Linked DNA regions of Homo sapiens. The protein of the gene in region 1 purifies or fractionates together with the protein of each later gene. This does not show direct contact. Each region holds a gene or a part of one and is shown in the gene's direction. Other genes may lie near its edges.

Region 1 (3,500 bases):
CGCGCCCGGCCTAGCTAACTCTTTTAAGTAGAGGTGTGACATTTGAGTTTTGAAAAGATGATGTTGGCAGCTTTTGCAGAAGGGAACATCGATAACCAGTTAGGTGTTTTGTTTTTGTTTTTTGAGACGGAGTTTTGCTTGTTGCCCAGGCTAGAGTGCAATGGCGCGACCTCAGCTCACTGTGACCTTGGCCTCCTGGGTTCAAGCAGTTCTTCTCCTCAGCCTCCCAAATAGCTGGGATTACAGGCGCGCCACCACACCCAGCTAATTTTTTGTTAGTAGACACGGGGTTTCACCATGTTGGCCAGGCTTGTCTTGAACTCCTGACCTCAGGGGATCCACCCACCTCGGCCTCCCAAAGTGCTGGGATTACAGGCGTGAGCCGCTGTGCCCAGCCCACCAGTTAGGTTTTTAAAAGCACTGGTACTGCAGTAAAACCACAGGTGTATGTCAAAAGCCTTTATGCTGGGGGAAAGCTGTGCCACTTGGGTTGAAGGAGGCAGGCCTCCAGCTTCTAAGTGCCCTGGGGCCTCTGTAGAGGGCCATGAGGGGCCACAGGATGCAGGGAGCTGGAGCTAGGCCCTGGTAGTCACCATGGAGGAGGAGAAACAAGGACATCCAAGACCTGAGGCTGGAAGGTTCTGGAGAGAACACAAGAGAAAAACAACTCCGGAGCTTCCAACCTCAAGTAGGGCACAGGGAGACAAGCGGGTGGGAAAAGGCCACAAATGGCTCCATGTGAGTGAGGGGCAGAAAGAAGAGGATGAGGTCAGTCCTCTGGGGGTGTCATCTTTGAACAGCAGTTGACAGGCAGTGGGTGTGAAGGTCTATATGGCAAGGAGCTACACACGAGGGAGGAGAGAGGTACTCTGAAAAGTTTGCAGAGTGGGTAGGAAATGACTGTGGAGCAGTGAGGAGAGTGATCAGTGATGGTGTAGTAGTTAGAGAGTGAGTGGTGGTGGACTTGATGGAGAGTGAGTGGTGGTGCTGGAGTGGTGGAGAGTGAGTGGTGATGGTAGATTGGACGGAGAGTGAGTGTGGTAGACTCGGGGACAGTGAGTGGTGATGGTAGATTGGATGGAGAGTGAGTGGTGGTAGGACTGGGGGAGAGAGAGTGGTGATGGTGGTGTAGGTGGAGAGTGAGTGGTGATGGTGGAGTTGGTAGAGTGAGTGTGGTGATGGTGTTGTGGGTGGAGAGTGAGTGATGGTAGTGTTGTGGGTGGACAGTGAGTGGTGATGGTGGTAGACTGGAGGAGAGTGAGTGTGGTGATGGTGTTGTGGGTGGAGAGTGAGTGGCGGTGCTGGAGTGGGTGATGTAGGGTCACAGAAGGAGGAAACAGCCTAGAAGGTGGCTGCCTTTGATGGTCCTTGAGTGGGCCCAGCTGGAGAAATGGTGAGAAGGATTAGGTTTCTGTTGTCTTGCTCAGGGACTTTTTATTTTATTGCACTTATTTGAATTAAAATGGTAAATTCAAATGGAATATTTGTGTTTATACTCTGTTAAGTGGGAGAATGTGGAGAACAGGAGTCAGCTGCCATACGGCCACCTGGCTGGCTCCGGGAACCTGAGGCCTGGTCTTGCCCAGCAGGAGCGCTGGCATAGCATGGATCACTTACAGAAATTTATGATCAAGATTATGGGCTGCTCCTGGCAATATGGGGAGGATTTCCTTGCTGTGGGGACTGTCTGTTTCCATGCCTGGCCCACCCGGTCTGTGATAGCCTCAGGTGCAGTCCTGTCTTAAGTTTGGAGACACCCTGGGAGGTCCGTACAGACTCTTTGAGTTTCTGAACTGTCCTCGAAACATCTCAGGCCCTCCGCCTCAGGGCCTAGGGAGGCTGTCCTCTGGTTCCTGAACAGGGTGGCTCTGACCCGCAGATCTGTGGGCTCCCGTTGCAGGTACCGGTGGTGCTCGGAACCGTCCTCAGATTCAGTCTTGGAAGGTGCTTTGGCACCTCCTTAGAGTCGGACAGACCCTTGTCACGAGTCAGTCCAGCTGCAGGGGCTCAAGTTGTTCTAGAGCTGGGCTGGCAGGGCCCTTGGGTGAGGGAGTGTGGCTTGGCACTGGCATCTCAGCCTGCGGCCAAGTTTCCTGCCTGCCCAGGCAGCATGACCCTTGGTGGGATCAGGCAGAGCTCTGCCTCTCCCCTCCCTACCTCGGAACATCCTGTCGTCACACACGATTGTCCAGTGTCATGAAAGTTTGTAAGTGGGAAGGCAGGCAGATGATGAATTCATCAAACATTACAGGGATGCTTTTGCTGTAAGACTTCGGGATGTAGCCCGTGTGGGGCTGTTTCTGGGGTCCCGTTCGCCTCTCCAAGCTCCTCCTGCCATTGGTAAAGATGCAGGGCATCTGAACTCGCTCTTGGGCTGTGCGGGCACTTGGACCTGGTCAGCTCCCTGTGCAGAGAACGTGGCTGTGGACGTCACTGCCCGGTATTCACGTGCCTTGGTTGTGAAAGCCGTTCTGTGGTGCCTGTTTGTGTCCTGTGAGTTTATGGGGAAATCCTGAAATTGAGAGCTGGGGACCAAGAGAACTGTGTGCGTCCCACCATGGAGGCGTTTGAGTGATGCTGTCACGAGGCTCTGCTAATGCCAAGAGGGGACCAATGAGCTCCTCTAAGGGTCTACCACCAGGTGTCCTTTTACAGACCTGGATGGTGAAGTTCAGGCCTGAAGAGGTGAACCTGATGCAGCAACAAACTGCTGTTTCCTTCAGTGCTTGAAGGAGTGAGTTCTGGGAACAGGATTCAGCGACTCAGGCCTTCTTTTGTCCTCATAAAGAAACAACTTTACATTTGAGGTTAAGAAGGTTGTCAGTTTAGCCCCCTCAGGTTTAAGTGTTGAAGAAATCTATGATGACGTGCTTGTTTTTACAAGAGTCTTTTCATATTTCAGGATTTTTTTTTTCTACATAGGATGAGGTTAGAGAAACTCTGAAGGGATATTAAAAATTAGAAAATTATAGGTTGGGCCGGGCGCAGTGGCTCACGCCTGTAATCCCAGCACTTTGGGAGGCCGAGGCAGGTGGATCACAAGGTCAGGAGATTGAGACCATCCTGGCTAAGAGGGTGAAACCCCTTCTCCACTAAAAATACAAAAAATTAGCCAGGCATGGTGGTGGGCGCCTGTAGTCCCAGCTACTGGGGAGGCTGAGTTAGGAGAATGGCGTGAACTCGGGAGGCGGAGCTTGCAGTGAGCAGAGATCACGCCACTGCACTCCAGCCTGGGCGACAGAGCGAGACTCTGTCTCAAAAAAAAAAAAAAAAAAAAAGAAAAAGAAAATTATAGGTTAATTAAAAGTTTTGCCCCTGCTGGGCACGGTGGCTCATGCCTGTAATCCCGGAGGCCAAGGCGGGTGGATCACCTGAGGTCAGGAGTTCGAGACCAGTCTGGCCAACATGGCAAAACCCTGTCTCTACTAAACATACAGAAATTAGCTGGGCGTGGTGGCGGGCGCCTGTAATCCCAGCTACTCTCGAGGCTGAGAAGGAGA
Region 2 (3,500 bases), on another chromosome or scaffold:
GTGGGTCCAGGGTGTGATGGGCCATAGTCATCTGCTACCTGTCTTCCCCCAGATGGTGCCCACAGAACTTGTGGAGAAGGAGTTCTGGAGGCTGGTAAATAGCATTGAGGAAGATGTGACTGTTGAGTATGGAGCTGACATCCATTCCAAAGAATTTGGCAGCGGTTTCCCTGTCAGTGACAGTAAACGGCACCTAACCCCCGAAGAGGAGGTGAGTGGATGATTCATGGTTACGTGTCAGCTGTGTGAGCTTAGGCAAATCATTTAGTATCTGAAAAACTCAGTATCTCTGTAAGATGAGGATAATTATGCCTGTCTTATGTAGCCATGAGATTTAGATGAGATGAAAGAAAACAGTCTGGTACCTGGCATGTACAAACATGAGATGGGTTCTTTCGCCTCTGTGAGCCCATTTCCTTATCTTTAAAATGGGGATAATATCTACTTTGCAAATTTGTTATAAAAATTAAATGAGAAGGTATATGAGATCCTGGCTCATCCATAAGTAGTGTTCAGGGAGTGGGGTTTGTATGCACAGGAGAAAATGAGGGCCTAGTTGTGCTTCCAAGAAAGGGTACATTTTGATCCAGAGCAGGATTTTTTTAACTTGCAGGTATTTTGGTAGGTGGATATATCGGTAAACTTCGTAGAAATTGAAGTGAATACAATTGAAATTTTGTGTGTATGCTTTTTGGTGGAGAGGTAGGGAGAAAACCTATATGTTTCTTAAGATGTTTCAAAAAAGTCTCTGACCTCAAAATTAAGGTTCCCTAGGCTAAAGAAAATGACTTAAGATCTCAGTTCCTTAGCATAACCCTCATGCCCTTTTTACAAATACCTGACCTGGCAGGAGTATGCTACCAGTGGTTGGAACCTAAATGTGATGCCGGTGTTGGAACAGTCTGTACTGTGCCACATCAATGCAGATATCTCTGGCATGAAGGTGCCCTGGCTCTACGTGGGCATGGTCTTCTCAGCCTTTTGCTGGCATATTGAGGATCACTGGAGTTACTCCATTAACTACCTCCACTGGTGAGTGGGACCCTGGGGAGCCAGGGAATCAAGTCAGTGTGGGCTCCCTGCATGACCAAGGTGTGATTTACTGTGTGTGTCCCTTTTCCACTTGTGCAGGGGTGAGCCGAAGACCTGGTATGGGGTGCCCTCACTTGCAGCAGAACATTTGGAAGAAGTGATGAAGAAGCTGACACCTGAACTATTTGATAGCCAGCCTGACCTCCTGCACCAACTTGTCACCCTCATGAATCCCAACACCCTCATGTCCCATGGTGTGCCAGTGAGTACCCAGGCAACAGGGACAAGCGGCAGGAGTGATTTAGTGATGTCCTTTGTGATGGTGGTGGTGGCGGTGGTTGTCATCTGTATTCTGCCCCTGGCCTTTCTTCATTGCTGTTCTTAATTGGGCTACGGGTTTGACTAGTCTAGTAGAGACCCAAAATAATAGTGATTAGATGCACCGTATGATGGTATGCCCTCTGGGCCATGTGTTTGACGGTAACAGCTAAGGGGTGGCTTATTATCACATCTACATTCCAGCCAGTGGAAGAGGGAAGTGGGGAAGTGCAGGGCTAGACAAATCTTTTAAAGGCACACATCATTTCCATTCACCTTCTGTTAGTAAAAACTTGGTCATATGACCACATCTAGCTGCAGGGAAAACTGGGAAATGTAATTCTTATTTTGGATGGTCAAGTACCACTTAAAACTGGAGGTCATGTTGTTATGACAGAAGACAAGAATGAATATCGAGGTACAACTAGCAGCCTCTGCCATACTTTGTATACTCTTACCCTTCTCAGAGCAGTGGATAGGTCTTTTTATTTAACAGGTCAAAAGTTGAACCCAGAGTTCTGGTCTATCCTCTGTGTACTTCTTTCTTACCCTTTAAAACATTTTGCTGGGTATACAACATGGCTTACCTGTGAGAGACTTTATATTCCTGGGAATTTCTAGCATTGATTAGCATCAGCCAGTTTTCTGGTGTGGATCTTAAAACAGCCTGATCACTAGTCCTGTAAGAACAGGAATTAGTAGATCCTCTATCTCTGCTTTAAGTATTATCCGGGGCTGCTACTCTTCCCTACACCCTTCCACGCTCTTTGGCCTTGGACACATTACCACTTACTCTAATGTATGAGATAGTCAATAAATACTGAATTAATGTCTCCTTCAGATATTCCTAGATATCTGTACAGTAGGGCTTTGGACTAGGTCAGTGGTTCTCACCTGCATTTCTTTTTGCCTTCTCCTTGTTTTGGTATACTATATGCCCCATGAGTAATATTTTTTTATTATAAAATTTAGTGATATTTAACCAAGGACTTGGGATATCTAGGGAATTGGACAGAAGGAGGTGTCCTATAACAGTTCAGGCAATCTTCCTCCACTCAGGGAGTTATCCTTTTCTCTCTCTACCTCACCCCATTTAAGGATGATGATCAAGGGCTTGAGTTCTGCTGCTTTACAAGTAGACATGGGGTCTGACTTTCCTTAGACTTCTCTCTTCCTGACCCATAGCACAGCATCAGTCCTTGTCTATAATGCCATGGAAAACTGTAAAAGAGGATTCTCTTGGCCAGGCACGGTGGCTCACGCCTGTAATCCCAGCACTTTGGGAGGCCAAGGCAGTCAGATCACTTGAGGTCAGGAGTTCAAAACCAGCTTGGCCGACACGGTGAAACCCCAGTCTCTACTAAAAATACAAAAATTAGCCAGGTATGGTGGCGCACGCCTGTAATCCCAGCTACTCAGGATCAGGAGGCAGGAGAATCGCTTGAACCCGGGAGGCAGAGGTTGCAGTGAGCCGAGATTGTACCACTGCACTCCAGCCTGGGCAACATAGTGAGACCCTGTCTCAAAAAAAAAAAAAAAAAAAAAAAAAAAAGAGCCGGGTGTGGTGGCTCATGCCTGTAATCCCAGCACTTTGGGAGGCTGAGGCGGCCGGATCACCTGAGGTCAGGAGTTCGAGACCAGCCTGGCCAACATGGTGAAACCTCGTCTCTAATAAAAATACAGAATTAGCCGGGCGTGGTGGCACGTGCCTGTAGTCCCAGCTACTGGGGAGGCTGAGGCGGGAGAATCACTTGAACCCAGGAGGCGGAGGTTGCAGTGAGCCGAGATCGTGCCATTGCATTCCAGCCTGGGCAACAGGTGGAGAGACTCCATTTCAAAAAAAAAAAAAAAAAAAAAAGGATTCTCTGAAGGATTTGGGTAGCTAAGAGGCATATATATATATATGTGTGTGTGTATATATATATATATATATATATATATGTATGTGTATATATATGTATATATACATATGCAGAAGGTCATGGAGCTGTTTAGTCCTTACCGCTTTTTAAAAAACTTTATCACAGAATCCAAAATACGTGCTTTTTGCTTACACCTCCACAGCATTTCTCCTGCTCGTGGCTCATCATCTTCTCTGGCCAGCTGCTACTTTACCACCCAGCCCTCTGTCTGCCCTGCCCTTCCTATAG
Region 3 (4,256 bases), on another chromosome or scaffold:
AGAGCTTCCCTACTCATTTTAAAGGCTGGAAAGTGGGTGAGGATGGGGATGGAGATGGAGATGGACTGGCTAGTGGTCGTGCTACTCAGAAACCAGAGGAAACAGGAGACAGGGCTAGGAACAAGTTGTGGGAAGCTGGAAATACAGCTGAAAAGGCTTTTAAAAAATCACTAATTTACCCATACTAAGCACCAGTCACTTTACATAAATAATCTCACTCATCTTCACAGCAACTCTATTGAGGCCAGTGTAACTTTTTTTCCTAAAGACCTAGGGCTCATGGACCTGGTCCTCAGGCACTCTGACCCTAAAGCCAGAGCTCCTCACCATGAGCCATACCACACCAACTCTAGCTGGCTGACCTCACATCAATTCAGTTTCTGCATCTACTCCTGGGTCAGAGAGTCTCTCACTCTATTCCAGCTCTACCATTGGATTACCTTCCACCGCTGTTAGGGTATCTTGTTTCTTACTAGAGGCTCTTTCACTACGACTACTAGGTATAAGGGGAAAACAAGGTGCCCAACATAGGGGGGTGGGTACACAAAGATTCCAATTTCAGACGACTGTTCAAATTGGATGAATATGAGTGGTACTGAGAAAGGTCCCTCGCCTAAGGATGCCCCTCCCTAGGAGATGCCTCGGACTCAGGAAAATGCCCATTCCTTGGAGAGGTGTTGGCTTGGGAATGGCAACTACGACTGCGAAGAGACCAGCCAAACGTGGCGATGGGCCGCTGAGGCCACTAGGAAAGACAGGAACAGGGTTTTCGGGGATTCGGTACTTTCCACTGTGGCGTTTTCAGAAAGTGGAGGAGGGTTCGTAGTGTCACTTTTTCTTAACGGACGGTCTTTTAAAGGCTGTGCTCACGCGCCACTGCCGAGAAGAGTGCGGGGCTTGGGGAGCGGGGCGGGCTCTTGGCGTCAGGCCAAAAGAGACCACGTGGAAATCCATAAGTCAGGACCCAGGATAAGGTTCAGGTTTGAGGGAAGGGGCTTCTGTAATAAGGGGGCTGTTCCAGGGCATCCCTGCCGGTATTCTACATCCTTACTAAATCCTGCAGGAGCGCAAAGGCCGGAGTCTAGCGCTGGCGGGTGTCACTCCACGTTTATTTCGTGCGCCTTGTGGCTGGAGTGGGAAGAAAAGGAAATAATCGTTAACTTTGCCATTCCCCCTGTCTGTAAGCGGGAAGACGGTACCCAGGGCGAGGGAGACCGGCGTTTGCCCGCCCCTCCTTCTCCCTCTCTTCGCCTGGCGCGTCCGGGAGGCGGCGGCGCCAAAGCTCGCCGAAACGGCGCTGGCGGGCCGGGGCCCCGCGCTGGCGGCTCCCGGGGGAAGCCCGGTTGCCAGGTTGGGTTTAACGCCTCCGCCCGCGCGCAGATTGTCCCGGGCTGAAGGCGCCACCTCTGGCGCTCAGGCGCAAGCCACCCCTCCCGCGCGGCGGTCCTCCCCCTCCCCCGCCATCTCTCAGCACCTCCTCGGCAGCCCCTCGGCTCCTTCTCGGTCACGCGCCTGCCCCAACCTCTGGCTGGCTTCGGAGCCTGCAGGCACTGAAGGGAGTGCAGGGTGTGGATCGCTGCCCCAGCCCGGGCCGCCGCCTCCGAGCAGTCGGCACCCGGAGGCAGGAGGCACAATGCAGGCGTGCGGGGGCGGCGCGGCCGGCCGTCGGGCCTTCGACAGCATCTGCCCCAACAGAATGCTGGCACTGCCGGGCCGGGCGCTGCTCTGCAAGCCGGGGAAGCCGGAGAGGAAGGTGGGGCGGTTGATTCGGGCCGGGCGGGGTCTGCGCGCTCGGTGCCCCGAGGGCTGACCCGCGTTCAACGTTTGTGTGCCCGGCCAGTTCGCTCCTCCGCGGAAGTTCTTCCCCGGATGCACAGGCGGGAGCCCGGTGTCGGTGTACGAGGATCCCCCGGACGCCGAGCCCACAGCGCTGCCAGGTGAGCCCCGTGGCACCCACGCTACCCCTCGGGTTCCCCGCGCCGGGAGGGTGCGGCGCGCACAGCTCGGAGGAGCTTCTCTCCCCCGGGCTCTGACGTCCTAGCTGCGAGCCTGGCGGAGAGGCTCAGGGCCCGCCCGGCGCGTGTCTCCCGGTCTCCCCGCGCAGCCCTCACCACCATAGACCTGCAGGACCTCGCTGACTGCTCTTCGCTACTCGGGTCCGACGCGCCGCCTGGTGGTGACCTGGCCGCCTCGCAGGTACCTCCCCTTCTCGTGGAGCCTCGTGGTTTCACGCAACCCAAACCCTCCTCCGGGGTGGTGGTTTTAATTCCCCAAAAGCTCCTCTCGGGTCGGGAGCGCAGGCACACTCAGCTGGTGAGGGGAAGCATTGTGCAGGCACCTGAGCCTCCCAGATCAGAACTTCTACTTGCATCCTAGTATGTTATGAAGACCACATATCCACTGGAGCTGATTTGACCAACTTGATACAGTCGGGCTCATCTGGAGGCCTCCCCTCCTATTTCCCACCCTATCTACTCTTTGGAGCTGTGACAAGATTGCGCACTGAGAGACCAGGCGGGTGGGTGGGAGCAAAGTTGCGCACTGGGAACCTGTTGCATTCCTATCAGTTCTCCCAACACCCCCTTCCTGGCCATTTTCATTCCGTGGGTATATAAGAAGAGTGGAGGTTGATGGATAACTTCTCTATCAGGACTGGAAAAGAGCAAGAGAATTTGCAGTTGGAAGAAGCAGGAAGGACAAAGGACTCTGGAAGTAATCTTGCAGAAAATGTTCTTCTCTGCAGAGACAGTCCTTCAGCAATTGGGCGCTTTTTCAAAGTCCTGTTCAGCCCTTCGAAAAGCTCTAGTCACTTGCCGTGATGGGGCAAAAAGGCACTTGACTTTTTTCTTTTCCCCAAAACCTGTCTTCTTGCTCCCATCCCACTTCCGCCACTTGCTGGTGCTGACGCTTCCCAGGCAGAGAAGGGAGTCTCCCAGCACTGGTGTCTGGGAGGCCAGAAGCCTGGCTCATGGGTAGGACATGAAGTGCCCAGAGGGACAGGAGGTCTTAAACAGATGCAACCCCCAGGAAAAGTGCCAGTTTCAGCTTGCTGGCAATAGGTCTGGGGTTTGCAGACAGGCCCAGTATGGAACTCTACAAAGAATTGACCACCTCCCAGAACTGGGAGTGCTGGTGGAGCAAAACTCAGCCCTCCTCCAAGGGCCTCCTAGAACCTTGGGCTAGAGCCCAGAGACACTCAGTTTAGGTGGCTGCTGAGAGCAGAGATTGTTAAGGCAAGAGTTGGGAGTGGGCACTGCACTGCAGAGGACATTTAATTGTTCTTTTTAGATCTGGATGATCAAATAAGGAAAGATAATGCCTGAGTATCTTCCAACTGACCCAGAGGCCTAGGTCACTCCCTTACCCCAGCATGTTTATTGTGCAAGTAACAAAACCCAAGCAGCTCTCATTGGATGTTTGTCTAAGTATACAGATTCTACATTTGGCATCATGCTCTTTGTTAGAATTTTTTTCTTGCATTTGTAGTTGGAGAAATGCCAGATTTATCTAATTGGGGAGGTAGAATTCAAAGTTTCATTTTGTTTATTTTCTTTTTCTTTTTTTGAGACAAGGTCTCACTCTGTCACTCAGACTGGAGGGCAGTGACATGATCATGGCTCACTGCAACCTGGACCTCCCAGGCTCAGGCGATCCTCCCACCTCAGCCTCCCAAGTAGCCAGGACTACAGGTGCACACACCACGGCCAGCTAGTTTTTGGTTTGTCTGTACTTTTTGTACAGATGGGGATTCGCCATGTCACCCAAGCTGGTCTTGAACTCCTGTGCTCTAGCGATCTGTCTGCCTCAGCCTCCCAAAGTGCTGAGATTACAGGCATGAGCCACTATGCCCAGCCTCGAAGTTTCAAGGACAGAGCTCACATCAGATGGACCAAAAAATCCAGGAATTTTCCTGGGAAAGACAGAGCTAGTTCAGAGGAAAGAGGCCCCCAGGGGAGAAACACTCAGGGAGACCCCTGGGACACTCAGATCACATTTCCCCATTCCTTTCCTGCTGGGAAAGGTGGACAGAGAGAGGAAGTGCTCTAGAAATGTTTGAGGTTCAGAATGGACCAACACCTGGATTGGCATAAGAGGTAGCATTTCCAGGGCCCCAGTTCCTGAGTTGGCCTCCAGTCTCCTCATGAGACTTTTCTCAAATCCCTACCCAGGAGGAGACCTTCCAGTTATTGAAGAATGAGCCCCTTCAACCAGGGCAGCACTCATGCTCCAGGACTTGTCTGGGGCCCTCAGCCCTT
Region 4 (3,500 bases), on another chromosome or scaffold:
GTTTTCCTGTTAGTGCCTTAGTTCTTCCTTTGAAGTACATGTTATATTCATCCCCCTTTCCCGCTTTTTTTCCATTGTCACAATCTTGATCCAAACATTCATTTTAAACCTGTGTTTGATTCTTTCTTGGCCCTTGCTCAGCTTTTTACATTATACTGTGAGACAAATTTGAAAATATATTCATTGTAAGACTTACTAAAATCTACGGAAATTCTTGGTTGCTTTCTAAAGCTTTCCATAGAAATTCAAATTCATTAGATGATTCCAGAATTGTGTTTTCTGTATTCATTCCTTGAAGACATTTATAGGCCACTGTGCAAGGTGCTGGGGATACCTAGGTGAGCAAAAGAGTCTTACAGCACCAAAGATTAATGAAGTCCTCTTTAGGAAAGCTATGCTTAAGCTAAGAAGTGAAAGATGAGTTACCTGAGTAATGGATTAAACACTCTTCTTTCTGTTTGTGGAGAAGTAATTAGGAGAGGTGGCGGCAAGAGTGGAAATAAAACCAATTTATACAGCATTATCTGAAGTGCTTGAAATTAGTAGAATGACGGAAACATACATATCATTCCATTGATTCCACTATCTCAGGTATTCAGTGAAAATGGTATGCTTCAGTTTTTTCACGATAGGGAGCTAGTGTATTTTCCATTTATACAGAGTTAATGAGCTAGATTTATATTGTATGGGTTCATAGAACATACCAATGTCTTTGTTGTCAGCAGACTATTTTGCTGCCTCTTAAAATAATTTTATTTACATACTTTTGAAAAATTAACTACTAGAGTTATAGTTCACTTTCTAATTTTACTATATTTTTGAGCTTTCCATATTTGTCATATTACTTTTCAGTTTTTTCCTATGTAAATTATTTCCAATTTAGATCCCACGTATGTTTAAAAATATTTTTATTAACTTCCAAGTATTTTGAAGTTTTCACTAGTACAAAGTATAATGAAGAAAAGATGCTATATTAGTGTGGGTTTTTTTCAGAAAGTGAAATTTTAAAAATATTTTTTTAAATATGATAGGCAAATTTTAAGTTACAAGTCCTAATTTTTATAAAATATTTTTATTATAAATCTATTTAATATTTTGCTGATGAATGAAGTCCCTAAGTCTGGAAATCACCGGCCTTATTGTACTGATACTGCTCTGGAGTATGTGACCAGTTAGATTGTATTACTCTTGATCAACACATACCTCTTTAATTTTCAATGGGAGACTTTTTCAAAATATGTCAACTCACTTTTCCTAAAACTAGCTCATTTTCTTTAATTCCAGTCTCTCCTTTAAGCTTATGTCAGAGACCTGCCAATTGAATTGTATACATTGGTTGTGACATGAGAGAATAGTGGTTTGCTAATCTCAACTACTTTTTAATAGAATCATTTAATTTCAAAATTTACTGGCTACTTCAGAGAACCTGTGTGACTTTTACCTATGTGTTAAAACCAATTAAACCAGGGCCAAAGGATGGCCTTTATTGTGTTATTGTGTTTGTCTGTGTAATTAGGAATTTTCCAAGCTCTAATAAGGCCTGCTACATTTTAAAGTAGCAAAATTTCAGAATATCAGAAGATTTCAGACTATTTGCAGTTGGTAAACAGTGGAATTTAATGCTTGGTTGTTACTGAGCCCACCCTTCCCAGAAGAATTACGATTAACTGTAGAGGAAAGTCCTTTAAAACTTGGTTATAGCAGAAGTTTGAGATGTTTTCCACCAATACTTTCTATGAATTAAATAAGTCATGTAGGGCAATTTGGAATTGAAAAGAGCTAGAAGTACAGCCATATGACGTTACAACTAAGTTCTCTGTATTTTCTGTGGTGATTTCTAATATGCTTTCTAAAGACTAGTAATTTATTAGATGGGTAGGCAGCCATTGTTGATTAGATGTTTTTTGTTGTCTGGAGATTTGGGCATGATGTGTTTATTATTTAAATCAATTGTCATAGGGTAACAATTTGTGCCCTCTTTTTTAAGGATATGGTGGTGGTTTTAATGAAAGAGAAAATGTTGAATATATAGAAAGAGAAGAATCTGATGGTGAATATGATGAGGTAAGCTATATTTTGGTGTTCAGGTTGAATATAAATTAGAAAAACAGAAAAAATTCTTAAATGCAAAGGAAAACAAACTTTTTTTTAAGTGCAATTTGAGTCTTCAGCAACTGATCATTTTCAGGAAATCATAAATATCTAAAATAATTTTTTAGAAAATGTATTAAGTTTAATGCATTATCAGCTGACAAGCATTTTGAAATTGTTTTTCTCTAGTTTGGACGTAAAAAGAAAAAATACAGAGGGAAAGCAGTTGGTCCTGCATCTATATTAAAGGAAGTTGAAGATAAAGAATCAGAGGGAGAAGAAGAGGATGAGGATGAAGATCTTTCTAAATATAAGTTAGATGAGGTGAACAATTTTCTTGTCCTATTTCCCTTTTGTCTTATTGGAGTTATACCATAACATGAATGCTTTTGACAGCCTCAGACACTTGGTGAAAATATATTCTGTGTTTTCATTTGTTCTCACAAAGGTTTTGGATTTCCACTCTGCCAAGTACTATTTGTACTTGGAACACTACTGTTCTGGAGATACAGTGGTGACCGAAACAGAACCAGTTTTCTCTTACACAGTTCTAGAGGAGGAAATATATAAATAGGTAATTTTGATAGCAGTAACGTTATGAAGACACATGATGTGATAACAGTTTAAAAGCAACTTTGGTTTTGCCGATGGATAATGTCTAAGGAGGTGAAGTTTGAGCTGAAACTTGAATGATAGGAAGGAGCCAGCAATAAGAGCCGAGGTGAGAGCACATTTAGGCAGAGAACAGCAAATACGGGTTCCCTAAATAGGAGATAAGCCAGCAGCCTTCAAAAATACCATACATAGGCCAGTATAGTTAGAGCAGAGGGGAGAATGAGATGAGGGGGACAGCACACATTTCAGGTCTGGTGATACTTGTTCTGTCAGGCCAGAGTGTAAGTTTTATGCCATGTTAAGGGTACCTTAGAGCCTGATCATAAGAGGTCTTGGAATGCAACTAAAGAAATAATAAGCCAGTTTTGAAGTTTTTAAGAAAAAAGTGAGATGTGTTTATCTGTCCTGTGTTTCAGAGTGATGACTGTCAGTATATTGAGATACTAGAGAGGCAGAATGGATCTTCAGATTTGAGGAGACCAGCTAAGAGGTTACTATAATATGCTAGAGAATAAGGAACAGAGTGTCTAAGACTAAAAATGGTGATTTCAAGGACTTTTAAGGAGGTGGACTTGAAAATTCTTGGGTGATGCATAAGTGTGACAGAAAAAGTGTGTATGGCCTCCAGGTTTATGTCTGTGCAATACCTGAGACAAAGTTGTCAAGTCTCTATTTGAGATGAGTTTAGTAGGTGAATTTTAGAATTCAGAATTAATTTGCTGAGATACCTGTGATATATGCATATGGAGGTGCTCAGTACACCTAACTGTTTTATCTTTCCTGGTAGGTAACAC

What was found.
Region 2: the proteins of TFDP1 (region 1) and KDM5C purify together in Homo sapiens (tandem affinity purification; one study listed by IntAct). This does not show direct contact.
Region 3: the proteins of TFDP1 (region 1) and MCIDAS purify together in Homo sapiens (affinity purification with mass spectrometry; one large-scale study listed by BioGRID and IntAct). This does not show direct contact.
Region 4: the proteins of TFDP1 (region 1) and ZRANB2 purify together in Homo sapiens (affinity purification with mass spectrometry; one large-scale study listed by BioGRID and IntAct). This does not show direct contact.

The regions. Positions count from the first base shown.
Region 1 is NC_000013.11:113,587,753-113,591,252, forward strand, and holds part of TFDP1 (transcription factor Dp-1), read left to right. Parts: intron 1-3,500. UniProt on the Homo sapiens protein: Can stimulate E2F-dependent transcription.
Region 2 is NC_000023.11:53,208,208-53,211,707, reverse strand, and holds part of KDM5C (lysine-specific demethylase 5C), read left to right. Parts: intron 1-52; coding exon 53-211; intron 212-850; coding exon 851-1,032; intron 1,033-1,131; coding exon 1,132-1,294; intron 1,295-3,500. UniProt on the Homo sapiens protein: Histone demethylase that specifically demethylates 'Lys-4' of histone H3, thereby playing a central role in histone code. Does not demethylate histone H3 'Lys-9', H3 'Lys-27', H3 'Lys-36', H3 'Lys-79' or H4 'Lys-20'.
Region 3 is NC_000005.10:55,224,516-55,228,771, reverse strand, and holds the start of MCIDAS (multicilin), read left to right. Parts: upstream 1-1,456; 5' UTR 1,457-1,633; coding exon 1,634-1,753; exon of another isoform or gene 1,754-1,840; coding exon 1,841-1,937; exon of another isoform or gene 1,938-2,104; coding exon 2,105-2,196; intron 2,197-4,256. UniProt on the Homo sapiens protein: Transcription regulator specifically required for multiciliate cell differentiation. Acts in a multiprotein complex containing E2F4 and E2F5 that binds and activates genes required for centriole biogenesis.
Region 4 is NC_000001.11:71,071,036-71,074,535, reverse strand, and holds part of ZRANB2 (zinc finger Ran-binding domain-containing protein 2), read left to right. Parts: intron 1-1,987; coding exon 1,988-2,064; intron 2,065-2,280; coding exon 2,281-2,415; intron 2,416-3,500. UniProt on the Homo sapiens protein: Splice factor required for alternative splicing of TRA2B/SFRS10 transcripts. Binds to ssRNA containing the consensus sequence 5'-AGGUAA-3'. May interfere with constitutive 5'-splice site selection.